Linked DNA regions of Homo sapiens. The protein of the gene in region 1 purifies or fractionates together with the protein of each later gene. This does not show direct contact. Each region holds a gene or a part of one and is shown in the gene's direction. Other genes may lie near its edges. The genes, in order: ARHGAP36, ATG2B, LSM11, HACD3, NOP58, MAGED4B and SRPRB.

Region 1 (3,500 bases):
CGGTTTATTCTAAGGCCTTTGATTTCCTTCGGAATTGTAAGCATCTAGGCTGACTCATCTCTCAAAGGCTTTTCTCTCTCTCTCCTTTTGGGGCTGTTGTTGATTGGGGATTTTACTGTTTGTTCTTACCTTATATTTGGGGGAGAGAAGGGACTGATTTTCATCTTATTTTTGGGTGAAAAAACCAGCTCTGCTCTTTGGATGATCAGATCTGGTAAGCTTCGATAAGAAGAAATAGCTGAAACTCCAAAACAGGTACAAAAGATATCTGGATTGGGGAAAGGGGAGAGGGGAGTAATGTTAGAGAAATTAAGCCAGAGCTAGGCTGTGTGTCTCAGGATGAGACCCTAGACTAATAGGCTCTGGACCTGCTATTTTGAATGGGGAATTGCTAGAGGCTTAGTCTGGAACTGTGGTTAAATGCATGTGCCTTTGGTTAAAATGGTCACTTTGCAAGTTGCAGTTTGGTGGTTGGGGTTAGGTGTTCACTTTGGGTCCAGGGGATGGAGCTTTGCAGTTGAAGGTTTAATATCTATGCTAGGTGTTTTCCTCTTGGTTTAGTTCAAAAGCCACAGGAAAACTCCTCATCTTTTCTCTTACTGCACCTATTTCTGACATCTGTGATCCTGGCTACTAAGGGAAGTAGGCAAAAGAGTTTTGGAGACAAAATTCAAGTATGGTTTATTTGTTTGTTTGTTTTTTGTTTTTTGTTTTTTGTTTTTTTTTTTTTGGACAGAAGGTAGCTCATCTATTTAGATTATTGCATGATAAACCGTTACTTAACTTTTCTCTGCCAAAGCTGCATTGCCTGATCTTTGAAATTTAAGCTCCCCACCCCCCAAATCATATATAGAATGTTATTGTAGATTCCATGGGAAAGAGACATTCAGTAAAGTTGTATGTAACTACTTCCTTTCTTGGCAAAAGGTTTAGTTCCCCATCTCCTGAATTATCTTCTCTATCAGGAACCAGCCATATTTACCCAAACCATGAACTTGGGAGCTATCCTAAATTGTTTTCTTTCCATTGCAATTAAAGATGTTCCCTAAGCCCTGTCAGTTCCATCCATGAGATTCGTCCCCTACTCCAGCCCTAGTGACACTGACTTGTGTCAATATCCCTTGCCTCTTGGCTCATCTACCTACTTCCAGCTCTCTACCCAAAACAGGCTTTTTCATGGCTTTCTGTGATTTTTCCAAGGTGCAACCCTGAATCTTTCACTCCCTGCCTAAAGCCCTATTGCCTTCAGGAAAAAGTCCGACTCTTTAAGCTGGCTTATAGGGCCATCCATGATCTCATCCCTGCCCATCCAGATTTTTCTCCTTCCAATCCCTTTATACAGCTTCAAGAATATGACAACCTCTCTCCCATCTCTTTTCCTTTGCACAAGCTGTTCTCTCTGGATGCTCCCCTCCTCTGTCTCCAGGCAGATTTAGCTGTTTTCTCCTTTCTGCTCTCACAATACTTTGTTTATATCTTGGAGGTCTAACATCACAAGGTTTTGTAAATTGTTGCTAACTTGTGTATCTCCTTCACTGCACTGTTAAATCTTTAAAAAAAAAAAAAAAGAAATAGTATTACCTTGCTCATCCTTTCAATCTTTAGCGCCTGGCACAAAGTGGGCAATTAATACAGGTTTTTGTTTTAATGAATGAATGAATGAGTGAACAAATGAGTAATAGAGAATGTGCGGGAAAGGATGCTGTGTGAGGTGTAGGGGCATACCCCATTGGGGATGCTTTGTAGTCTGGAAGTAGTATAAGATAGTGGGCATCATGGAGAAGGCACATATAAAATAGGTTTTACCATTACACTAAGACAAACTCCACTTTGATACCAATTCTGTTTAAGGAGTCTCACTAGAAATGGTCTGGAAATGATGTTTGTTGGTTTTGGTACAAATGATTTTTTTATGAAAAAGTAATATAATGAAGTTGTACAATGTTTGGTAAATAGAGAAAAGCAACAGGCAAACAAAATCTCACCAGTTAATGCAAATGCTGTTAGCATTTGGGTGCATTTCCTTCAGTCTTTTATTTTTATGCATGTTTTTCTTCACATAGTTGCAATCAAAATTAATACAATTCTGTGTTTTGTATTTGTTGTTAAAAAACTCTTTGTAAATATAACTTTAATGATTGCATAATTTTTCCATACTGTGGCCATTACAAAATTTATATAACTAATATCATTGCTGGGCTAGCTTTTTTTCCCTTTTTTTGTTACTATTATGGTTTATGTGGATATGCTTTTCCCTGTCTGTAGGAAGATTTTATTAGGATAGATTCCTAGAAGGGGAGTTACTAGGTCAAAGGGCCTGGGGACGATTTTTGGCTCTAGACCCATGTGTCCATTTTGTTTTCTGGACTTGTCTGAATTTGCAGCTCTCCTAACCTAGATGAAAGTCCCCTTTTTATCCAACCTGGACAGCATCGAGTATCGTCATGGAAAGAAAAAAAAAAACCTCTAAAAACGCTCTAATTAATTAACTAATTAATTAATGGAAAATACTATCTTATTTTTGTTTCAAAGTGCTTTTGTTAAAAAATGTTTTTCTCTTTTATTTTTTCTTCTTATTTTCTCTCTTTGTACTTTTTTTTTCTAATTAGGTTTTCTTTTTCCTGGACTATCTGTTAAGGGCTGAATTTTTGAAGTTGGATTTTTTTTTTCTTTTTTAGCAAAAACAACCAGAGGCTGCTCTGCTTGAGGGTGAAGCCGCCTCCCAGTTTTCCCTCCCCCTCTACCCCCACCCCCATAGTTCTCTCCACCAGGTCCAGTGACAATTGGATGATGCAGCCTTGATAATCATCCGATTCCAGAATGGGTGGCTGCATTCCTTTTCTGAAGGCAGCAAGGGCACTGTGCCCCAGAATCATGCCCCCTTTGCTGTTGTTGTCCGCCTTCATTTTTTTAGTGAGTGTCTTGGGAGGAGCCCCAGGACACAACCCCGACCGCAGGACGAAGATGGTATCGATACACAGCCTCTCTGAGCTGGAGCGTCTGAAGCTGCAAGAGACTGCTTACCACGAACTCGTGGCCAGACATTTCCTCTCCGAATTCAAACCTGACAGAGGTAAGCTGTACCCCGGATTGTGGCATCCTCGCCTTCGGGAGAGTGGACCCTCCGGGCAGGACGGGGCGGATTAGGGGTCTGGCAGGGTGGGAGGGGCTCACGCCTGATCTCGGACTTGATCAGTTCTCCTGGCGTCTGGGGAACTGAAGAAGCCGGAGTTGAAGGCTGTTTGTTGAATTGCGGAAGAGGTAAAAATTAGTTGAGTTTGGTCGAAGGCTGGGAGTTGAGGGGGCAGTAAGACAGACGGGCAGATGTCAGGGACAGACAAGTGGACAGAGGGCCGGTGAAGAGACAGCCGCAGCAGGTGCGGTGCGAGAATAGGGCAGAGCGAGACGGAAGCGCAGAGGGACACTCTGGAGAGAACTGGGAGAGATAGAGACAGCGCGGTCGAGAGACAGAGAGTAGAGGGAGATAGCAAGACAGTGCG
Region 2 (3,500 bases), on another chromosome or scaffold:
GTAATCCCAGCTACTGGAGAGGCTGAGGCAGGAGAATCGCTTGAACCCGGGAGGCGGAGGTTGCAGTGAGCTGAGATCGTGCCACTGCACTCCAGTCTGGCGACAAGAGCGAAGCTCTGTCTCAAAAAACAAAACAAAACAAAACAAAACAAAACAAAACAAAACAAAACAGTATTATCACCTCAGAATGTAATTGGTTTTTTACCTTAAAGTGTGGTCCTCAAAACCTCTCAATGACAGAGTTATCTTATATGTCATTAAAGGAAGGGAAGGGACTCTGTATCCCAGGACTTGTAGAATGTCTGGCGTAGAGGAGCAGTGAATGGTGTGTTGAATTGCTTTTATAATCAGAAGTTCTTTAAGTGCAATATTTCCATATAATTCCCTAGGCCAATAATATGATGTTGCTTTAAAGCATTTTATCAGGATTTCTCTCATTAATTTCCAGTTCAACAACTTTTTATGGTAATAAAATACAATTGGTTATTTTTCAGAGGAGACTTTGAGTAAGAAGTTAGCTTTTCCTTATGTGAGAATGAAAACTAGTGCACTATGATTGCTTCTCATGTTTCTTATAAAGGAGAACTTCTTAATTGTGCTGGGAAAATAATACATTATTTAAAAACTTGAGTGTTTTCAAAATTCTTTTCTCATGAAAGCATTTAGGAAACATGAGAATATCTGTCTGACTTTCTATCTGGTAGGAGTAGAGAAGTGGTTAGGGTGAATAACCAGCTGGAAGGGAGACATTTAGCAGAACCTCCTTATTTGTTTGGATTAGAAATATGAAAGAATAGATGTTGGTGAGAGGGACTGGTTTTTAGACTGAGCTAGGTATACATTAAGGAAAAAGAGCTTCCTTCAACAATGACTTATATGAAAAACCAATCGCCCCTGCACACAATGAGTTATATAAGAAGCCAGATTGATAGTTTTAAGCAGTCTTTAGCAAAATTTATTTTTTCTGAGAATTGTTCCAAGCCAAAAAATATGAAATTATATTATGCATACATTGTTATTAATTTCATAAGGTGTGATTTTCTAAGATTTCTGTAGCATTGGAGTTGTTGGATAGGCTTCTGCATTTCAAATTCTAATTTTGCAAATACTTTTAAAAAATTTATTTTTATTATATATAAGGTGAATAACATGTCTTGATATGCATAGTAAAATGCCTATTGTAGTCAAACGAACACATCCATCAGTATCCATTACCTTCTTTTCTGATGCAAGTACTTTTTGAAACTAATTCCTTCAAAATGATGATTTTTTTCCTTTTACCGTTATGATTTTCCAATTAAATGATTTTTTCTGTGAGATATTCTGGTTTACATTGGTATTAAGGATATTATATGAAACCTTTTTTTTCTTCTAAAGCAGGGCGTTTTAATTTTTTGTGATTATAGATTTTATACTTCTTGAATATTGCTGATGAACCTGTTTTGGGATATAATCCTCCAACTTCATTTACAACTTTTCATGTTCATCTTTGGAGCTGTGCACTTGATTATAGGTAAGTTCACAAATGGAACAAAATAAAGTTTTATTTAAAATGCTACTAAATTTTGAAAAAAATACATAATTCAGTAGAGTTAAGGTTCAAATTGTTGTTGTTGTTGTTGTTTTTAATAGAGTTTCTGGAGCCGTATCAAACTGATGTTCTTTTGTTTCTCTTTGGCATTAGACCCCTTTATTTGCCAATCCGATCTCTTCTTACCGTGGAAACATTCAGTGTTTCCAGTAGCGTTGCATTGGATAAATCTTCCTCTACTCTCAGGTACCTGTGTAAACTTCATTGTATACTAAACAAAGCTGTTCGAAACATACCAATTGATATTTACCTAAACCATTTTATTAAAGTCTCAATTTTTTGTTAAACGTTCTTTTACTAATAGTTATAACCTTTTACCCAAATTACCCAATTTTTCTCAGGTGACATGTTTCATCTACCCATTTATTATTGCATTTCATTTTTAGGGAAGAAATTAATTCTGGAGATTCTTTAAAAAGTTTGCATTTTAAAACATATGGTAAACTTCCCATGCTACCTGATACACTTTATACTTTTTATTTAATTTTTTTATTTTTTAGAGACAGGGTCTTGCTCTGTGTGGCCCAGGCTGGAATGCAGTGGCATGATCACAGCTTATTACAGCTTTCAACTCCTGAGCCCAAGTGATCTTTTGCCCTCACCCTACTGAGTAGCTAGGACTATAGACGTGTGCCTCTATCCCTGGCTGATTAAAAAAAAAGTTTTGTTTTTGTAGAGAAGGGGTCTTGCTGTGTTGCCCAGGCTAGTTGAGAACTCCTGGCCTCAGGTGGTCCTCCTGCCTTGTCCTCCCAAACGGCTGGGATTACAGGTGTGAGCCACTACATCTGGCCCACTCTATCTTTATACTATAGTTTAAACCTTGTGAATTTGGGCATCTCTTTAAAAACTGCCAAAAATTTAGAATTAATTTGAGTAGATGATTTAATCTAATTCTTTACACCATTTAAATATTCCTAGCATTCATAAACAGTTTTTAAAAAATGTTAGATGACAGTTATAAGTTAGAAACTGCTTATGATTTCAACAATGTTCATACCAGAAAGAATGATGCAATTAAGCATATAGTGATTATGGGGTATGATACTCAAAGCTTAGTTTTTCAGATGTTGGTTTTATCTTTCTTGCCTCAGAATAATCTTGGATGAAGCTGCTTTACATCTATCTGACAAATGCAATACTGTCACTATAAATCTGAGTAGAGGTAAGAGTTAAAAAACAAATGGAGTAGATAAATTCTGCTTTATTTTTGTGCGTAAATAATTTTAAAGCATTTTAACTCTGGGATAATGCTAGTGAACTAAGAATCTTATTAAAGATCCTTAAAGATTAAAGGGTCTTTAAGTATATAGTGATCATGTGGTATATATTCACAGCTTCATTTTTCAGATACTGGTTTTTCAGTTTGAAATTGTAATGTTCTTATAATGCTAGTTAAGTACATCAAATTACTATATATACTACAAATTTTTATTTAAGATAATTTTTGTTTCTAACAAAAAATAAAGTGAATTTTAGGACTTCTATGGGATGAAACTATTTTCATTGCATTATAATTATTTGTAGTGCTCTCTGCAATGAATTTTAAAGGAATGCTAGTTGTATTGGGTGTTGGTTGGATACACATTTTTGAAAGCTGTACTGAAGAGATTTTCTTAATTTTAAAAATTTTAGATTATGTTCGTGTGATGGATATGGGGCTTTTGGAGTTAACCATAACTGCAGTGAAGTCTGATTCTGATGGAGAGCAAGTGAGTTATTAAAATAAATGAAAATTTTAAGTTCTATTTTTTAAGAGATTAAAAAAATTGAGTTTAACATTTTTCCGTGTACCTAATTTTGGTCAGAAATAGAGTAAGTATATTAAAAATGGATTTATTTAAATACTTTTTTTATGTAGCGAGACAGATTATCATGAATCTTATTTAATGTAAATCTATGCAAAAAAAGA
Region 3 (4,134 bases), on another chromosome or scaffold:
ATGGTTTTTGTTTTTTTTTTTTTTTTGAGATGGAGTCTCCCTCTGTCACCCCAGCTGGAGTGCAGTGGCGCGATCTCAGCTCACTGCAACCTCCGCCCCTCCAGGTTTAAGCAATTCTCTGCCTCAGCCTCCAGCGTAGCTGGGATTACAGGCGCGTGCCACCACGCCCGGCTAATTTTTTGTATTTTTAGTAGAGACGGGGTTTCACCATCTTGGCCAGGCTGGTCTTGAACTCCTGACCTCGTGATCCACCCGCCTCGGCCTCCCAAAGTGCTGGGATTACAGGCGTGAGCCACCGCGCCCGGCCTGCTTGATGGTTTTGTCTTCGCTGTAGTATGCATTCATCCCAAGGTATATTTCAGAGTTGTATATTAATTTTCATCTTGCTCTCTAAGGTACTCTCCAGTATTCTCTTGGACTTCCTAAGTCTTAAGGAAACTGAAATGTACACAAAGCAACTAGTACAGAGAATACTAGTTGATGGCAGTTTGAGAATGTGGTGACGGGCAAGTGATGTGTGGCCTGTAGGTGAGTGGAAACATTTTGGCTCTGCTGGATGAGAAGGTTATATCTGGGCCTTCCGCGAAGAGTAGACTGTCATTTTAAAATCAACCAAAAAATATTTTGCCGAACTGAGACTATAAAGTAGCAAGTGGTATGATCAGGTCTTGGGAATTTTCCATAGTTTCCTCCAAGAGCTGGATCTTCGTTTCTTCCAATTGGTTAGCAATGCTTAGAAAGACAGTGATATAATGAATTTTCTTTGATACTAAGCACAAATTTGTTTATGCACAGGGTATAGGAAATGGAGGACAGACACCCAGTATTGGCTGACATGCATCTATTATGAGCTCTGTAGGCAGTATCTCTCCATCCTGAGGTCAGTTCTATAAGGTAGGTGCTATTTATATCATATTTCAGACGAGAAACACGCTAAATACTTTGAGCCCAGATAGGCTATTCTTCCCACCCTATCAGTAGTACTCAGCATGGAAGCAAACTGAGACATTCATTGCCTTCCTCCAGACGCTTCCTGCCAGCTCAAGCTAGGATGCGATCCCGAGCTCATTCCCGGGGAACCCAGAGTATTAACAAACACCCTAAGTGATAATGATACAGACGGGGAAACTGCGCTGGAGCAGGTCAAGCAGCAGTCGACAGCGTTAACCTGTCAGCTATGGGAGGAGGCGGTGCGAGGCGCGGGCTGGTCGGAGCCGCGTACCACGCCCCCCGGCCCGGGTGGAACGAGGACAGGTGCTGCCCTCCCGCGGCCGCTTCGGCGCAGTGCAACCCCGCGCCGCGGCTGCGCAGTGCCGCCCTCTGGCGGCTTCGTTCCTTCTTCCCATCGGCCTCGGCTTGCGGGCCTTTCAAACATGGAGGAGCGGGAGCGGGGGGCGAGGTCGGCTGGCGCCGGGAGCCCCGCGCGCCCGCCCAGCCCGCGGCTGGATGTCAGCTCTGACAGCTTCGACCCGCTGCTGGCCCTGTACGCGCCCCGCCTGCCTCCCATTCCCTACCCCAATGCCCCCTGCTTCAACAACGTGGCGGAGTACGAGAGCTTCCTCAGGACCGGAGTCCGGGGCGGCGGGCGCGGGCGCGGGCGGGCTCGGGGCGCGGCCGCGGGCTCTGGGGTTCCCGCCGCACCCGGGCCCTCGGGCAGGACTCGTCGCCGCCCGGACGCGCCCGCCCCGGACCCCGAGCGCATCCAGCGCCTCCGCCGTCTCATGGTGGCCAAAGAGGAAGGGGACGGGGCCGCAGGAGCGGGCCGGAGGGGTCCGGGTCGGAGCAGGAAGGCGCCACGCAACGTGCTCACGCGAATGCCCTGTGAGTCCGCGGGCCGGGCGGGAAGCGGGGCAGCCGCCGTCCGGAAGCTGGCTGCCGAGGGGGCGTCTGCGGGGCGGCGGTGGCCGGGCGCGGGTCTGCACGTATTGCGGGAGCGCCTTGGTGAAAATTTGCGGGGATCATCAGTGACTATGGGGTGGATCTGCTTGAGTAATGTGGGTAATGAGGGCGTGGGGAGGGTCACCCTGAGTAAGAAAAGGGGCTGTAGGAGCAACAGAGGGAGAGTGGTAAGGCTGTAGTGGTCATAAGAAGCCGTGGGAAAGGTCTTCAGCGGTAATCGGGGCCCATGGAAGGGTCACAGAGGTGATGAGCCTGCCGAGAGGGTCTACAGGATTGATGGAGGACCTGGAGAGGTGGCGGGGCTACAGAGTTTGGGGGACATCATAGGGACGTCTACAGAGGTGATGAGAGGTCTTAGAGACCACAGTGAGAGGTAAGGTGGGGCGGAAAACGGGAGACGTGGGGGAGCGCACAGCCAATATTAGGGGAAGGAGAGTATTTGGTCAGTGGGATTTGAGGATGATCGGATGGAGTGTGGGGAGATTTGTTCAGATAGCACAGGCGCATAATCCCATAACCCCTGTACATTGACAGCTCCTTCTCGAGTGCGATAAGCAGAAGGGCTGCAGAGTCTTGATACACATATGTTCACATTACTAAGTCACAAGTGCTGAAATGCAGCAGGCACAGAATGCCACTAAAACACAGACGCTGTTTTACAGCCACTCTGCCTGGCTGGGTGCAGGACTGTGTCTGTCAGGCTCATATTACCATATGTGCAGGTTATTTTAAGTTCTAAAGGTGTAAATGGCACAAGGGAATTTCTTGGAGCCTCCTCATAGATCCTTAGAGTAAAGCTGTAAACAGCAGAGGCTCTAATGTGTGAGTTAGGTCTTGTATAAATGGAATAAAAACAGCCTAAGGTTATCTCTTTTGTCATCTGGCAAGCAGTTCTGACATCTGCCCTGTGAACACAATGACCTACTTAGCCATTCAAAGCATCTGTATCCTGATAATTAAATTGTTACCTTATTAAGTCACTGTCTTTTGGATGGAGAGGTGTGCCAAGCAAGGGACTGTTTTGCTTCATTCCTAGAAATTTGTTTATTAAGAGAGAACATCCTGAAACGCTCTGTGCTGTTCCGTGTGCCTTCGTTGGATGTCTTACCATGCCACAGCATCCCTGCCCAAGCTAGGATTTACCCCGGCCTGCTTGCCTGGCTGTAACACAAAGACAGTATGCTTGTTCCCAAAATGAGAGCAGTTTGGGGGACCTTAATTTGCCTATGCAATTTGCCACCATTAGGTAGTTGAAATGCACTCCAAGTCTCATTGCAACATTTATTTCTATTTTACCAGTTATTGCTTTGCTACCAAGATTGTCAAGGGAAAGGAATATTCCTGTGTATTGCTATGTGGTGGGTGGTTTTAGCTTTCCCTATAGAGCACTTTACTGTAATGGTATGACAGTGTGTGAAGACCAGCTTTGTCAACTTCTTATGATTAAGTATATATCCCTGGAATCAAGATCTCAGAGAATATGCCCTACATACTGAAAATTTTCACCATGGCACTGCAGACAGTTGAGTGTACATGAGAGAAAGGCATTGACGTCGCACAGAGTTGATGACCTTCAGAAAGCAAGAAAACAACAGAAACATGGGTGAGGATTGGATTCATTCAAGAAAGAGTTCCTACTTGAGGGTGAAGGGTGGGAGGAGGGTGAGAATCACAAAACTACCTATTGGGTACTGTGATCACTACCTGGGTGACAAAATAATTTGTGCACCAAACCCCAGTGACACACGATTTACACCTGCAACAAACCTTTCGTGTACCTCCTGATCCAAAAACAAAAGTTGGAAGGGGGGAAAAAAAAGAACTAGGTATGTTTTATATGTATGCCACAGTTTTAATTTAAAAAAATATATGCCTACTCTAAACTCTGATTGGATACAGTTGCTCAGGAAAATCAAAATATAGATACCAGTAAGATAATACTATTTGTGGACATATACAAATGCTTTCTGGAAAAAAATGCCTATGCATTTGAGAATGCATAATCCTTTGCAAAATATTCACATAAAATGTAAGTTCCATCAGGCTGTAACAGCAAGAAGAAGCTTTGTTAGGTCATATCATCAGTGAAACATAATGAAGAATACATGAGGAGCTACATTTTGTCGCTGACTTTAAAATGATGTATTTCATCAATTCAGATCCAAGTTACCCATCCAAATTCACAGAGAGGACAGTGTGGAATGTTTATGAAAAAACAAGGAGTGCAAAATTAAG
Region 4 (3,500 bases), on another chromosome or scaffold:
TAAGTCAGCTAGGGATTTTCCTCTCCATTTTATAGAATAGAAGAAGCCCACTACCATGACTTCCTCATCTGTCTCTCTGTTGACAGGTTGGAGGCTGATCTCTTAGAAAAGTAGGGGAAAAAAAGGAGAGGCATGAGCTTTCTGTACAAAGGGAGGAGAAAGCCTTTCCAGCACACCCAGAACTGAAACTTTAGAGTACTAGGACTGGAAGTTCCTGTCATTAAATGTGACTGTTTCATTTGCTTCTAACAAGTTCTTGTTTCTGTTTTCAGCTGTCTCAGTGATTCAGTCCATTCCAATATTCAATGAGACCGGACGATTCAGTTTCACATTGCCATATCCAGTGAAAATCAAAGTTAGATTTTCCTTTTTTCTTCAGATTTATCTTATAATGATATTTTTAGGTAAGTATTGATTCTTTAATACAGACTTTTTCTTGTCACTTCTTAGACAGTAGAATTAAATCATTCAGAAATGTAAAAGTCCATATGAGAATTCTTTTGGGACAGAATTAGAGAATGATTACTTTGCAAAAACAGACCCACTAGGGGAATATGCTATGGTAAGGAAATATTTCTTTTCTAAATCTCCAGCAGTTAAATTATGTTCTTTAAGTGCTCTTGGTGATTGGGAATATACCATAAGATATTTCTTGTTTAAAACAATGTAAGGGGACAGGCATGGTGGCTCACGCTTGTAATCCCAGCACTTTGGGAGGCTGAGGTGGGCACATCACAAGGTCAGGAGTTCGAGACCAGCCTGATCAACGTGGTGAAACCCTGTCTCTACTAAAAATACAAAAATTAGTTGGGTGTGGTGGCGGGTGCCTGTAATCTCAGCTACTCAGGAGGCTGAGGCAGGAGAATCGCTTGAACCCGGGAGGCAGAGGTTGCAGTGACCTGAGATTGCAGCATTGCACTCCACCCTGGGCGACAGAGCGGGACTTTGTCTCAAAAAAAAAAAAAAAATAAATAAATAAATAAAAATTAAAAAAAAAAAAGTAAGGAGCCTTTTAAAATAGACTAAGAAGCTCCCACTTTTACTAATTTCAGTAGCATATTCCTCATCCAGAGTTTATAGAGGTGATAAGACAACCAGCAGCAAGGAAGGAAGAAGGGAATAAAGGCCTCTGAGCAGCCAAGGGTTGTCATAAAGCCTTCCACCTCACAATAGGAAAGTCCCCTGCTCCTCATGGAAAACCTGCTGACCTATTAATTTATATAAAATCATAAATTCCTGCCTTTATAAACTAACAGAAGGGAAAAAGAAAGAAACCTAAATTATTACAAATATGACAAATTTAAAAGGCTTCCTAACTATAAGGATTTTTTTTTGTTGTTGTTGTTGTTAAATTCTTATTAGAGGCCAGGTATGGTGGTTCATGCCTGTAATCCCAGCACTTTGGGAGGCTGAGGTGGGTAGATCACTTGAGGACAGAAGTTTGAGACCAACCTGGCCAACATGGCAAAACCCTGTCTCTACTAAAAGTACAAAAATTGGCTGGGCTTGGTGGCGCATGCCTGTAATTCCAGCTACTTGGGAGGCTGAGGCAGGAGAATCGCTTGAACCCAGGAGGCAGAGGTTACAATGAACCGAGATTGTGCCACTGCACTCCAGCCTGTGTGACAGAGCAAGACTCTGTCTCAAAAAAAAAAAAAATTTATTAGTAATCAGTATTTGGTAATTTCTAAATGCAACTATACATGATTCTACCCATATTATCTATACTATACTCTATACATAGATGTGAAAATACATACATTCTTATGTGTAGGTTAAATACAATTTGAGAAAAATAATTTTTTCCTTTTAAGAGCAAACTAATACGTATCGATTTTAGTATGACAACTAAGAACATAAAAACAGAATGAAAGGAATTTTGTCATTAAATATATTTGAGAGGAGAAAACACTGATTATCATACATAGAACTTTACATGTTTAAGGATAAGACAAGCTCCTAACTATAAGGACTCTTTAAAGTTCTGATACATTTTAGTGGTAATTTATATATTTCTCCTTGCTTTATTTCACAAAAGACTTAAGGTGGCCCTAAATAAATATAACTGTCCAGTCTCCTAGCCACAGAAGGATGCAACAATAGTATATTAGTTCTCTATTGCTGTGTAACAAATGACCCCCAAAACTTAGCAGCTGAAAACAATAAATAGTTATTATCTCACATAGTTCCTGAAGGTCAGGAAGCAGCCTGGCTGGGTGGTACTGGCTCAGGGTCTCATGAGGTTTCAGTTAGGCTGTCAGCTGGGGCTGCAGTTTCTGTAGACTTGACTGGGGCTGGAGGATCTGCTCCAAGCTCACTCTTGTGGCTGTTGACAGGAAGCTTCAGTTTCTTGCCATAGCCCGTCTCCATATGGCTACTCATGGCATGGCTTCCCCCAAAGCAATTGGTTAGAGAGAGAGAGCCCGAAGCCACAGTGCCTAATCTCAGAAGTGACAAATCATCACACAGACCAACCCAGTATAACATGGGAGGGGACTACACAAAGGTATGAAATAACAGGAGATAGAGGTTGTTGGGATCATTGTCACGGCTTGCTACCCCAGACAGTGAGAGGAAGACCACGCAAGGTAAGCCCAGGAAGCCAGAAAGCCCAGTGGTCTTGGTCATTTAGTGTTGCGGGAGGAGAGACTTATACCATAGTATTAGGAGCCCCTTAGTGTGCCAGTGCCTGGCAGATGTACAGTTAAATAGTATACATTGTAGGCCCACGTCATTTGCAAAAGGTTAAAATTTCTTTCTTTTTTTCTGTTTCAGCAAAGGGTATAATCCATTTCAGAAATATTGCCAACCAAAAATATTAAAATGTTTTGCCCTTGAAGAGAGGAACCCTCAGTTCAGAAAATGTACTAATTAAAGACAGCTTTTTACCTTTATTACTGTATAAATTCAGTATAACTAGGCCCCATGAAATGGGCATAAGATAAAGAGGAATAAATATTGGAAAGACATTTAAAATATTTTAGTGAACAGGGTAGAGGGGTAGAAATATTTTAAAGTGCATTGACTTAGTATCTTTTTTTGTGTTGTTTATATTGTACACTCTAATTTGCAAGATTTTATGTTCATATCTACTTTGCTTATAGTGAATATGTAGTTGCTCTTTTCTTATTCTTTAGAATGAAATAAATCCTAATTTCACATTTATAATTTTGAAGCAGTGTAAACAGCCAGTTAACATTTGTATATAGGTCAAAGGACTTTTTAGTTTTTTTTTTTTTTTTTGAGACAGAGTCTTGCTCTGTCACCCAGGCTGGAGTGCAGTGGCACGATCTTGGCTCACTGCAACCTCCACCTCCTGGGTTGAAGCAATTCTCTTGCCTCAGCCTCCGGAGTAGCTGGGATTACAGGCACCTGCCACCATGCCTGGCTGATTTTTGTATTTTCAGTAGAGATGGGGCGTCACAATGTTGGCCAGGCTGGTCTCAAACTCCTGACCTCAGGTGATCCACCCATCTTGGCCTCCCGAAGTGCTGAGATTA
Region 5 (3,500 bases), on another chromosome or scaffold:
GCGAGGCTGAGGCAGGTGAATCATGAGGTCAGGAGATCGAGACCATCCTGGTTAACACAGTGAAACCCCGTCTCTACTAAAAATACAAAAAAATTAGCCAGGCATGGTGGCGGGCGCCTGTAGTCCCAGCTACTCGGGAGGCTGAGGCAGGAGAATGGCGTGAACCCGGGAGGTGGAGCTTGCAGTGAGTGGAGATTGCTCCACTGCACTCCAGCCTGGGTGACAGAGTAAGACTCCGTCTCAAAACAAAACAAAAAAGAAACACTACAATTTAAAAAGGTCTATTTTAAAATTAAAAGGTGGGCATAGATTGAAAGGGTTGAAGCTGCTAAGCTAGAGTTAAGAGCAAAAATGCACAAAGGTTAGGGAGAGCTTTGTAATAAGCATTTCTAAGAGAGAACAAATAGTGAAACTGAGTCAAAAATCCAAACCTGGGTAAATCTGCATTGTGTATAGCAGTGGTTCCCTATCAAGGGCAATCAGATGTCCCCCCAGTAGGCATTTGTCTATGTCCATAGACATTTTTGGTTGTCACAATTGGAGGTGGGTTGGGGTCTGCCATGAGTATCTGGTGGATAAAAGTTAGGGATACTGCTAAAGGTCCTATAATGCACAGGGCAGCCTGTACAACAAGGAATTAGGCCCAAAATATTAATTGTGCTGAGATGAAAAAACATTTTTATACAGACAATATTGTTACTCCACAGCTTTCTGTTTTCAGATGTTAAGAGTCCTGCAAAGTTCCTAACTGGTAGTATAAAGCTTAATATGTGCTATTAAAAATTGCATGAACCAATATGGCTTTTTTTTTTTTTTTTTTTTTGAGGCGGAGTCTTGCTTTGTTGCCCAGGCTGGAGTACAGTGGCACGTGATCTCGGCTCACTGCAACCTCTGCCTCCCCGGTTCAAGCGATTCTCCTGCCTCAGCCTCCAGAGTAGCTGAGATTCAGGCGTGCCCCACCATGCCTGGCTAATTTTTATATTTTTAGTAGAGACAGGGTTTCGCCATGTTGGCCAGGTTGGTCTCGAACTCCTAACAGGTGATCTGCCCACCTCGGCCTCCCAAAGTGCTAGGATTACAAGCGTGAGCCACCACGCCCAGTCCAATATGACTTTTGTATTACACAGCTTATCCTATTTGTCATTCATACATAAACTCATTCATGTTACAGAAATAAAGGTCGTAGCAGCACATATAGTTTTTTTTTTTAATGTGTATTTTCTGTTCTCGTATGGTGCATTTCTACTTAGCTGATTTTTCTTCTTAGAAAAACCAATTACAGCTCTGACTACAGGCTGATTTGAGTAAAAACAAAAACAAAAAAAAACTTTAAGGTGTTAATTTAAATGCTTTTCCTAGATGCTATCTTGCTAATTTATTTTCCCCTTTCTTCCCAGCCTGTCTCGATATAGATTGAAGTTTAGCGCTGATAAAGTAGACACAATGATTGTTCAGGCAATTTGTAAGTATAGTACATGCAAAGTCCGATTTGTTGCTCTGTCCTTCATGCGTTTTCATACTGTTGAAACTATCTTTTATGATTCTGTCTGTTGAGAAAGAGAAAGGAGGCCAGGTGTGGTGGCTCAAGCCTTTAATCCCAGCACTTGGGAGGCTGAGGCAGGCGGATCACCTGAGGTCAGGAGTTCAAGACCAGCTTGGCCAACATGACAAAACTCTGTCTTTACTAAAAATACAAAAAAAATTAAATGTGCATGGTGGCGTGTACCTATAATCCCAGCTACTCAGGAGGCTGAGGCAGGATAATTGCTTGAACCCAGGAGGCGGAGGTTGACTATTTGGAGATTATATGAATCACAGAATTAACATTACGTTAATTAATTCATTTGTATTTTTCCATGAAAATGTTAAAAACATAAGTGCAATCTTTGTAGTTGTGTATTCTGCTGTGTCATTAAATGGTTTTTAGAAAGCTCAAAAGCTGCCAGGCACAGTGGCTCATGCCTGTAATCCCAGCACTTTGAGAGGCTGAGGCGGGAGGATCACCTGAGGTCGGGAATTTGAGACCAGCCTGACCAACATGGAGAAATCCCGTCTCTACTAAAAATACAAAATTAACCAGGCATGGTGGTGCATGCCTGTAATCTCAGCTACTCGGGAGGCTGAGGCAGGAGAATCACTTGAACCCTGGAGGCAGAGGTTGTAGTGAGTTGATCGTGCCATTGCACTCCAGCCTGGGCAACAAGAGCAAATCTCCATCTCACTAAAAAAAAAAAAAAAAAATCAAAATCTTAATCGTTTTTCTATTTTAGAAATGCATTCGGCCGTGGCTCACGCCTGTAATCCCAACACTTTGGGAGGCAGAGGCTGGTGGATCACCTGAGGTCAGGAGTTCGAGATCAGGCCAACATGGTGAAACCCGATCTTTAGTAAAAAATAAAAAAATTATCTGAGCATGATGGTAGGCGCCTGTAATCTCAGCTATTCAGGAGGCTGAGGCAGGAGAATCACTTGAACCTGAGAGGCGGAGGTTGCAGTGGGCCGAGATCGCACCATTTCACTCTAGCTTGGACAACATGAGCAACACTCCGTCTCAAAAAAAAAAACAAAGTATTCGGCTGGGCGCAGTGGCTCACACCTGTAATCCTAGCACATTGGGAGGCCAAGGCGGGTGAATTGCCTGAGCTCGGGAGTTTGAGAGCAGCCTGGCTAACATGGCGAAACCCTGTCTTTACTAAAAATACAAAAAAGTAGCCAGTCGAGGTGGCGTGTGCCTATAGTCCCAGCCACTTAGGAGGCTGAGGAAGGAGAATCACTTGAACCCAGGAAGCAGAGGTTGCAGTGAGCTGAGATCGCACCACTGCACTCCATCCTGGGTGATGGAGTTAGACTCTGTCTCCAAAAAAAGAAAAAAAAAAGCGCTCAACCAGCGATTCCTTTCCTAGATTTATACCCAAAAGAATTAAAAACAGAACTGAGTTGCTTGTACACCTATGTTCATAACAGTGTTATTTACAAAACCAAACAGTGGAAACAACCCAGATACCTTTTAACAGATGAATGGATAAACTGCATTGTGGATGCAGCTTGAATGTCCCTAATCTGAAATTCAAAATGCTCTGAAATCTAAAACTTTTTGTGGTACCACACAAATCCACAAGTGGAAAACTCCACACCTGACCACACGTCAAAACTTTGTTTTATGCACAAAATTATTTAAAATATTGTGTAAAATTACCTTCAAGGTTTTGTATATAAGGTATATGTGAAATGTAGATGCATTTCCTATTTAGACTTCGAGTTCCATCCTCAGCCTCATACGTGTTTGCAAATACTCTGAAATACTTCTGGTCCCAAGCATTTTGGGTAACGTACACCCAGCCACTTCACACAGTGGAATGTTAGTCAGCCTTAAAAAGAAATGAAATTCTGATACATATTTCAACATGATAAACCTTGAAAATATGCTAAGTGAAATAGTCACAAAATACTGCATGATTCTGCTTATATGAAGTACCTAAAATAGGTGAACTCAGAGACAG
Region 6 (2,428 bases), about 79 Mb from region 1:
CATGCCTTGACCTCCCCGCATGTTCCTCCTTCTCCAGGCAAATAAGTTGGTGAAATACCTGATGATTAAGGACTACAAGAAGATCCCCATCAAGCGCGCAGGTAGGCAGCCTGTGCCCCCTTCACCATCCCCTAGTCTGTGGGCATCCCTTTGCTTGCGTGCCACGGCTGGTCCCTCCATAGCCACAGGACGGGGTCCTGGCTGCGTCACCCTCGGCAGAGCTGACCAAGGGGCTACAGCTCTATGACCCCTGCTCAGCCCAGGTGCTTTCTCCAACTCTTCCCCCTCCTGCAGACATGCTGAAGGATGTCATCAGAGAATATGATGAACATTTCCCTGAGATCATTGAACGAGCAACGTACACCCTGGAAAAGGTGGGTGCAGGATGGGAGCAGCTCTGTGGGGGAAGAGCGGGCATGGGGGTGCGGTGACCCTGCAGCCCCTCAAGGCCCAGTCTCTGGAGCCATCTCTCACCTCTCCGACTCTGAGCTTCCACTGCACTGGCAGTTTGACTCGTGCTTCCTGCCCTCGGCTTCTCTCTCTCATGCTCTCTGAGTGTCTCGCCGTCTGGCCAGGTGGGTCTCATCGCCTCTGCCAGCGTCAGCTCCCACAGCGAAGGTCTTCCGTGTGCTGTCTTCTTCTGCCCTCGCTCACGAGTTTGGATTCCTTGCTGAGGAGCAGTTCTAACCCGGAATCACTGTCTGCCGGCAGGATGCCCAGCATGGGGTTTGGATCTCACACTCTGTTTTCTCCCCCACGTAGAAGTTTGGGATCCACCTGAAGGAGATCGACAAGGAAGAACACCTGTATATTCTTGTCTGCACACGGGACTCCTCAGCTCGCCTCCTTGGAAAGTAAGAAAGGGAAAGCGGGTCGTGGCCTTCCTCGGTGGTGTCCCTTCCCTGCCCACACCCCTTCAGTGAAGCAGGAAGACGGGGCTTGAGTGCGGCGCACCGCTCCCACACACAGCGAGGGCTGCCTGGTGACTGCTGGATGAAAGGAATGATAGCCTGGGGTGAGGCCTTGCTGCCATCAGTTCTCCCCAAGCTGCTGCCGGGCTTTATCCCCAAAGCTTCGGAGGAAAGTGCCTCTTCCTCCTGCCTGCCTGGCCTGGGCCTGGCAGAGCTGGCCTAGGGGAGAGCTGCCTCTTCAGTGTAGGTGCTGATGTGGAAGGGGCAGGAAAGGTCTGGAGCCATCTCTGGGCACACGTTTGCCATTTGCAGAGCTTCGGCTCCCTGCCTCGCCCTGTCCTCTGCAGAACCCTGTCAGGGAAGTGTTAGTACCCATGTTTTATAGAGGAGGCGATTAAGTCTCAGGCGGAGGTGCGAATGGTCTGTCAGCAGCTAGTGAACTGTGCCTGTCCTGGGAAGAGTTCCCCTCAAGCTGGGAAACCTGAGAGAGGCTAGTTGGGAGAGCCTGGTGGTGTCTCTCAGGCAAATAGCTGCTAAACAGGATTTCTCTTTCCACACCTTTAGAACCAAGGACACTCCCAGGCTGAGTCTCCTCTTGGTGATTCTGGGCGTCATCTTCATGAATGGCAACCGTGCCAGCGAGGGTGAGTGGCTGGACCTGCAACTGGGGGGCTGCCCATAGTCTCATCTTCTGGGTGCCAAACTCTCGTACCTCCTCTCCCCTCGCAGCTGTCCTCTGGGAGGCACTACGCAAGATGGGACTGCGCCCTGGGTATGATTGGCCTCTCCAGCTCCTCCCCTCGGTGCTATCCTCTGGCCAAAGAGGTCCTGGGATTGCAATAGCCTGGTGGTCTGGCGCAAGGGCGTGGGGTGCCCTGGGCTCGGTAGAGAGCAAAGGATCTCACCAGGGCGGATGGGGAAGCGGTGCTGGACGCTGCTCAGCCCTCTCTCTGCTCTGTGGCCCCAGATGACATCTAAGAGAGACAGTCAGAGTCAGGGATTCCATCAAATCCCTACCTGGGGCGTCCCTGACCAACAGTCCTCTGGCCTCTGCTGCATGCCCAGGCCTCCACAGCGACTCCCCGGGGGCTGGGAAGTCATAGTCATGCTAGGGAGGGCCCCTGCCACCGTCTCTGCTCATGGATTCCTTTCCTTGCCCTCAGGGTGAGGCACCCATTCCTCGGCGATCTGAGGAAGCTCATCACAGATGACTTTGTGAAGCAGAAGTAAGTATCACCTGAGCTAACTGCGGCTCTCACTCGAGCATCCTTTGTGTGCTGGTCTGGCTGAGAAAGCAGTTCCCTATCCCAAATCTTCAACTGGAGGGATGGGTGCCTCTGACCTGGGAGTGAGTGGCAGTGGGGGGTATGCGAGTGTGTGGGGAGCCGAAGGCCAGGGCGGTCTTGGGAAAAGGGAGCTCACGTCACCTGAGAACACGGTGTGGGGTGTGAAAACGGCCGCCATCACCTTGAGCACCTGCCCTGTAGACTGACACAAGAGTTCCCCCTGGTTTACAC
Region 7 (3,500 bases), on another chromosome or scaffold:
TTGTCACAGATAAGAAAATTCCTTGGACAATTGAGACAAATCTAGAGCTGGTAAATTTTGCCATAATTGGGTTTTTATTTCCAATTAAATGTTTTTTCTTTTTCTATTGCCAGTTCTAAATATTTTATGATTTGCAGTATAACTACTCTGTGATTCATGTATTTTGGGTAAATAAAACATGCAAAATATGAAGATAAAACTTAGTTCAAATAAATTATAATCATGATAACATGCAAGTTGAAAAGACATTTACTATATTGGTATGTGACTTTTTTTTAATCCTACTTTCTGGCTTCGCCAAGTTTCCCTAGTGGCTATTTTCCCTCTCCTGATTTGAACATATGCTGTTGCTGTTCTTATCATGGTTCCCCTCCCCCATCTTTTAAACATTGCCTATTTGATTGTCTGAATCCAATAATATCAGTTTCCTTTTCCTGAACCTTAAACACTTTAACTTTCATCTTCCTCACATCTTCCTTTTATTTATGCTCCTTTTTAACCCCCATCCATACTTTTTTTTCCTCTTACATTCAGTGATGAGAATTACCAGGATGCTTATGGTCTTTTGCTCCCCATTGCTTCTTGAATTTTACTTCTTCCCTTTAGATTCAGTTTTCCCTCACTGAGTATATCTTTTAGAAGTGTTTCCAGAGAGGGTGATGAGTAGTCAAATGTTTTCAGTCTTTGTTCATTTGTAACTCTATTTGGCCAGCATTTTGGAATGTCTCTTTTAGCTGAGTGCAGAGTCCTGGGTGGCAGCCGCATCACTCCTGACCTCATCCATCTGTTGCAGATGAGAATGTTTTTGCCAGTCAGTCTAATTGTCATTTCACTGTAGTAAGTCTGCCTGATTTGACCTTCTATCCAGGGATAGATTTTCTTCTGTTCAAGGATGGATTTAGCTTTATCATTCTTGGAATTCAGTTGTGCTATTCCAAACCAAAGATTCTCCTCAGTTTTGGAAAATTCTCACCATCGTTTCTCCAGGTAGTGCTGTTTCCCCATGATCATTTCTCACACTCTGGAATTCTTATGAATGTTATTGAACCTTATTATTTTTGCCTTTCTTGTTTCCTCTCTATCGTATCTTCCAGATCTTTCTACTTCGCATATTGTAAGATTCCCTCAGATTTGTTTTCTAGTTTATTACATTATTTTCAGCTGAGCATGATCTCTGCTTAACTTTTCCATTGATTTATTAATATCATTTACTATATTTGTCTAAAATACTTACCTTTTCAAACCAGCCTGTTTCTTTTTATACTATTCTATTTTTTATTGTAGTTTGTAGTATTTTCTTAAATAATTTTAAACATTTACTTTATAGATAGCTTTATTATCTTAGTTTTGGGGTGCTGATTATTCTCTTTGGGGTACCAGTTATTCTCCCTCATAATTATTTTATTCTGTGCCTTGTAATTTTTGCTCCAGAACCTTTCTTCAAGAGTGACACATCATTGATATTGTGGTGGTTCTTTAATCCCGTAGGATATGAAAGCCTTGCTCCATAAGCGGTTCATAGTTCCTTCTGTTGGGGCCATAGGGCTTCAATAAGTCTGGCCCAATTTTTATGTAAGCCTTTCCCCTTGGGGGTCTTACACCTGGAGAGAGTATAAATTCATACCCTATATCTGTGTGAGGCAGTGGAGGCCCGCTGTTTCTAAGGGAACTTTTTTTGCAAGCCCCGACCTCCCTGAGACTATTTTAAGTTGTAGGCTTTGTGCAGGGCATTCAGTTCTAGCTCCCCAGCTGCATGTTGGCCATTGCATGTCTCTTATCTCCACCTGGGCATTCAAACCCTTGTCCATAAGGCTTGTATTTTTTTTTTTTTTTTTGAGACGGAGTCTCGCTCTGTTGCCCAGGCTGGAGTGCAGTGGCGCGATCTTGGCTCGCTGCAAGCTCTGCCTCCCAGGTTTACGCCATTCTCCTGCCTCAGTCCCCTGAGTAGCTGGGACAACAGGCACCCGCCATCACACCAAGCTAATTTTTTGTATTTTTAGGAGAGACAGGGTTTCGCCGTGTTAGCCAGGATGGTCTCGATCTCCTGACCTCGTGATCCGCCCGCCTCGGCTTCCCAAAGTGCTGGGATTACAGGCGTGAGCCACCGCGCCTGGCCGGTTTTTTTGTTTTTTTGTTTTCTTTGAGATGGAGTTTCGCTTTGTCACCCAGGCTGGAGTGCAGTGGCATGATCTCAGTTCACTGCAACCTTCGCCTTCTGGGTTCAAGTAACTCTTCTGCCTCAGACTCTCAAGTAGCTGGGATTACAGGCTCCCGCCACCATATCTGGCTAATTGTTATATTTTTAGTAGAGATTGGGTTTCATCATGTTGCCCAGACTTGTCTCGAACTCCTGACCTCAAGTGATCTGCCTGTCTCGGCCCCCCAAAGTGCTGGGATTACAGGCGTGAGCCACCGCACCCGGCCCCCTAAGACCTGTTGTCTGCAGTTTCCCTGGGCTGCTGCACTTTAGCTTTGATATCTCTTTGTTTCTGTCACATGAGGAGTCCCACTATGGCTGCCTTAGTTCAGGCCCTACCTGGTCACTGTGCTTCTAGTTCAAGCGCCCTCTAAGATTGCTTTGTCTTCCATTTAGGCACCAATATTCTTCATAAGACAGAAAAGCATGAACTCCACAGGTCATTGTGTCACGCCTCACTGTCTGACTTGGTTCTCCTTCATTTCCCCATCTCCCTGTGTACCAGCTTACCTTGACTTCCCCAGGGAATGTGTTTCACGTATTTGTGGCTTGAACATACTGTAGGCTGAGTATCCCTTATCCAAAATGCTTGGAACCAGAAGTGTTTTGGATTTTAGACTTTGGATTTTTGGATTGGGGATACTCAACCTGTACTTTCCAGACAGCCTGTGCCCCAATTTTTGGTCTAGCTAAGATTCAACTCAACTGTTACATTCTCCTTAAAGTTGCCTTTGACCTGGTCTCATTTAAATGATCTTTCTCTTTATTCCTGTTACACATGTGCATAGTTTTGTCTTGGCATTTATCATATGGTTCTCTATATGATGATTTGTCTTGGAGGACAGGCATCATTTCTTACTGTCTTTTTTCAGCTTCAGTCATTGATACACAGTAGCACTCAATAGTTCCTTGTTAAATGAGGATTTATGTTATATGATAACATATGCACAGACCTGCATGTGTGTCTGCTGAGTGTTAATCACCAAGATTGACTTTGAAGAAGTTCAGGATAGTTTTTCAAGATAATGATGTCCTGTTACACGTTCACATGCCAGTTTTTCTTGTTTTCTCCCTCCAGGGCTATTGTGTTTGTTGTGGATAGTGCAGCATTCCAGCGAGAGGTGAAAGATGTGGCTGAGTTTCTGTATCAAGTCCTCATTGACAGTATGGGTCTGAAGAATACACCATCATTCTTAATAGCCTGCAATAAGCAAGGTGCCATCATGTTTTCTTGCAATAATAATTGAGTTTTTTGGGGATTGCTGCTACTAAGAATTATTTCCATTATTTACAGTTGTTATTA

What was found.
Region 2: the proteins of ARHGAP36 (region 1) and ATG2B purify together in Homo sapiens (affinity purification with mass spectrometry; 2 studies listed by BioGRID and IntAct, with this or other methods). This does not show direct contact.
Region 3: the proteins of ARHGAP36 (region 1) and LSM11 purify together in Homo sapiens (affinity purification with mass spectrometry; one large-scale study listed by BioGRID and IntAct). This does not show direct contact.
Region 4: the proteins of ARHGAP36 (region 1) and HACD3 purify together in Homo sapiens (affinity purification with mass spectrometry, with the first as the bait; one large-scale study listed by BioGRID). This does not show direct contact.
Region 5: the proteins of ARHGAP36 (region 1) and NOP58 purify together in Homo sapiens (affinity purification with mass spectrometry; one large-scale study listed by BioGRID and IntAct). This does not show direct contact.
Region 6: the proteins of ARHGAP36 (region 1) and MAGED4B purify together in Homo sapiens (affinity purification with mass spectrometry, with the first as the bait; 2 studies listed by BioGRID). This does not show direct contact.
Region 7: the proteins of ARHGAP36 (region 1) and SRPRB purify together in Homo sapiens (affinity purification with mass spectrometry; one large-scale study listed by BioGRID and IntAct). This does not show direct contact.

The regions. Positions count from the first base shown.
Region 1 is NC_000023.11:131,078,846-131,082,345, forward strand, and holds part of ARHGAP36 (rho GTPase-activating protein 36 isoform 1 precursor), read left to right. Parts: intron 1-2,678; 5' UTR 2,679-2,820; coding exon 2,821-3,073; intron 3,074-3,500. UniProt on the Homo sapiens protein: GTPase activator for the Rho-type GTPases by converting them to an inactive GDP-bound state.
Region 2 is NC_000014.9:96,311,342-96,314,841, reverse strand, and holds part of ATG2B (autophagy-related protein 2 homolog B), read left to right. Parts: intron 1-1,406; coding exon 1,407-1,513; intron 1,514-1,684; coding exon 1,685-1,777; intron 1,778-2,682; coding exon 2,683-2,753; intron 2,754-3,223; coding exon 3,224-3,300; intron 3,301-3,500. UniProt on the Homo sapiens protein: Lipid transfer protein required for both autophagosome formation and regulation of lipid droplet morphology and dispersion.
Region 3 is NC_000005.10:157,742,378-157,746,511, forward strand, and holds the start of LSM11 (U7 snRNA-associated Sm-like protein LSm11), read left to right. Parts: upstream 1-1,334; 5' UTR 1,335-1,373; coding exon 1,374-1,821; intron 1,822-4,134. UniProt on the Homo sapiens protein: Component of the U7 snRNP complex that is involved in the histone 3'-end pre-mRNA processing. Increases U7 snRNA levels but not histone 3'-end pre-mRNA processing activity, when overexpressed. Required for cell cycle progression from G1 to S phases.
Region 4 is NC_000015.10:65,571,963-65,575,462, forward strand, and holds part of HACD3 (very-long-chain (3R)-3-hydroxyacyl-CoA dehydratase 3), read left to right. Parts: intron 1-272; coding exon 273-404; intron 405-3,500. UniProt on the Homo sapiens protein: Catalyzes the third of the four reactions of the long-chain fatty acids elongation cycle. This endoplasmic reticulum-bound enzymatic process, allows the addition of two carbons to the chain of long- and very long-chain fatty acids/VLCFAs per cycle.
Region 5 is NC_000002.12:202,286,263-202,289,762, forward strand, and holds part of NOP58 (nucleolar protein 58), read left to right. Parts: intron 1-1,397; coding exon 1,398-1,462; intron 1,463-3,500. UniProt on the Homo sapiens protein: Required for the biogenesis of box C/D snoRNAs such as U3, U8 and U14 snoRNAs. Part of the small subunit (SSU) processome, first precursor of the small eukaryotic ribosomal subunit.
Region 6 is NC_000023.11:52,063,756-52,066,183, reverse strand, and holds part of MAGED4B (melanoma-associated antigen D4), read left to right. Parts: intron 1-37; coding exon 38-101; intron 102-294; coding exon 295-374; intron 375-762; coding exon 763-854; intron 855-1,475; coding exon 1,476-1,555; intron 1,556-1,640; coding exon 1,641-1,683; intron 1,684-2,074; coding exon 2,075-2,137; intron 2,138-2,428. UniProt on the Homo sapiens protein: May enhance ubiquitin ligase activity of RING-type zinc finger-containing E3 ubiquitin-protein ligases. Proposed to act through recruitment and/or stabilization of the Ubl-conjugating enzyme (E2) at the E3:substrate complex.
Region 7 is NC_000003.12:133,812,315-133,815,814, forward strand, and holds part of SRPRB (signal recognition particle receptor subunit beta), read left to right. Parts: intron 1-3,275; coding exon 3,276-3,412; intron 3,413-3,500. UniProt on the Homo sapiens protein: Component of the signal recognition particle (SRP) complex receptor (SR). Ensures, in conjunction with the SRP complex, the correct targeting of the nascent secretory proteins to the endoplasmic reticulum membrane system.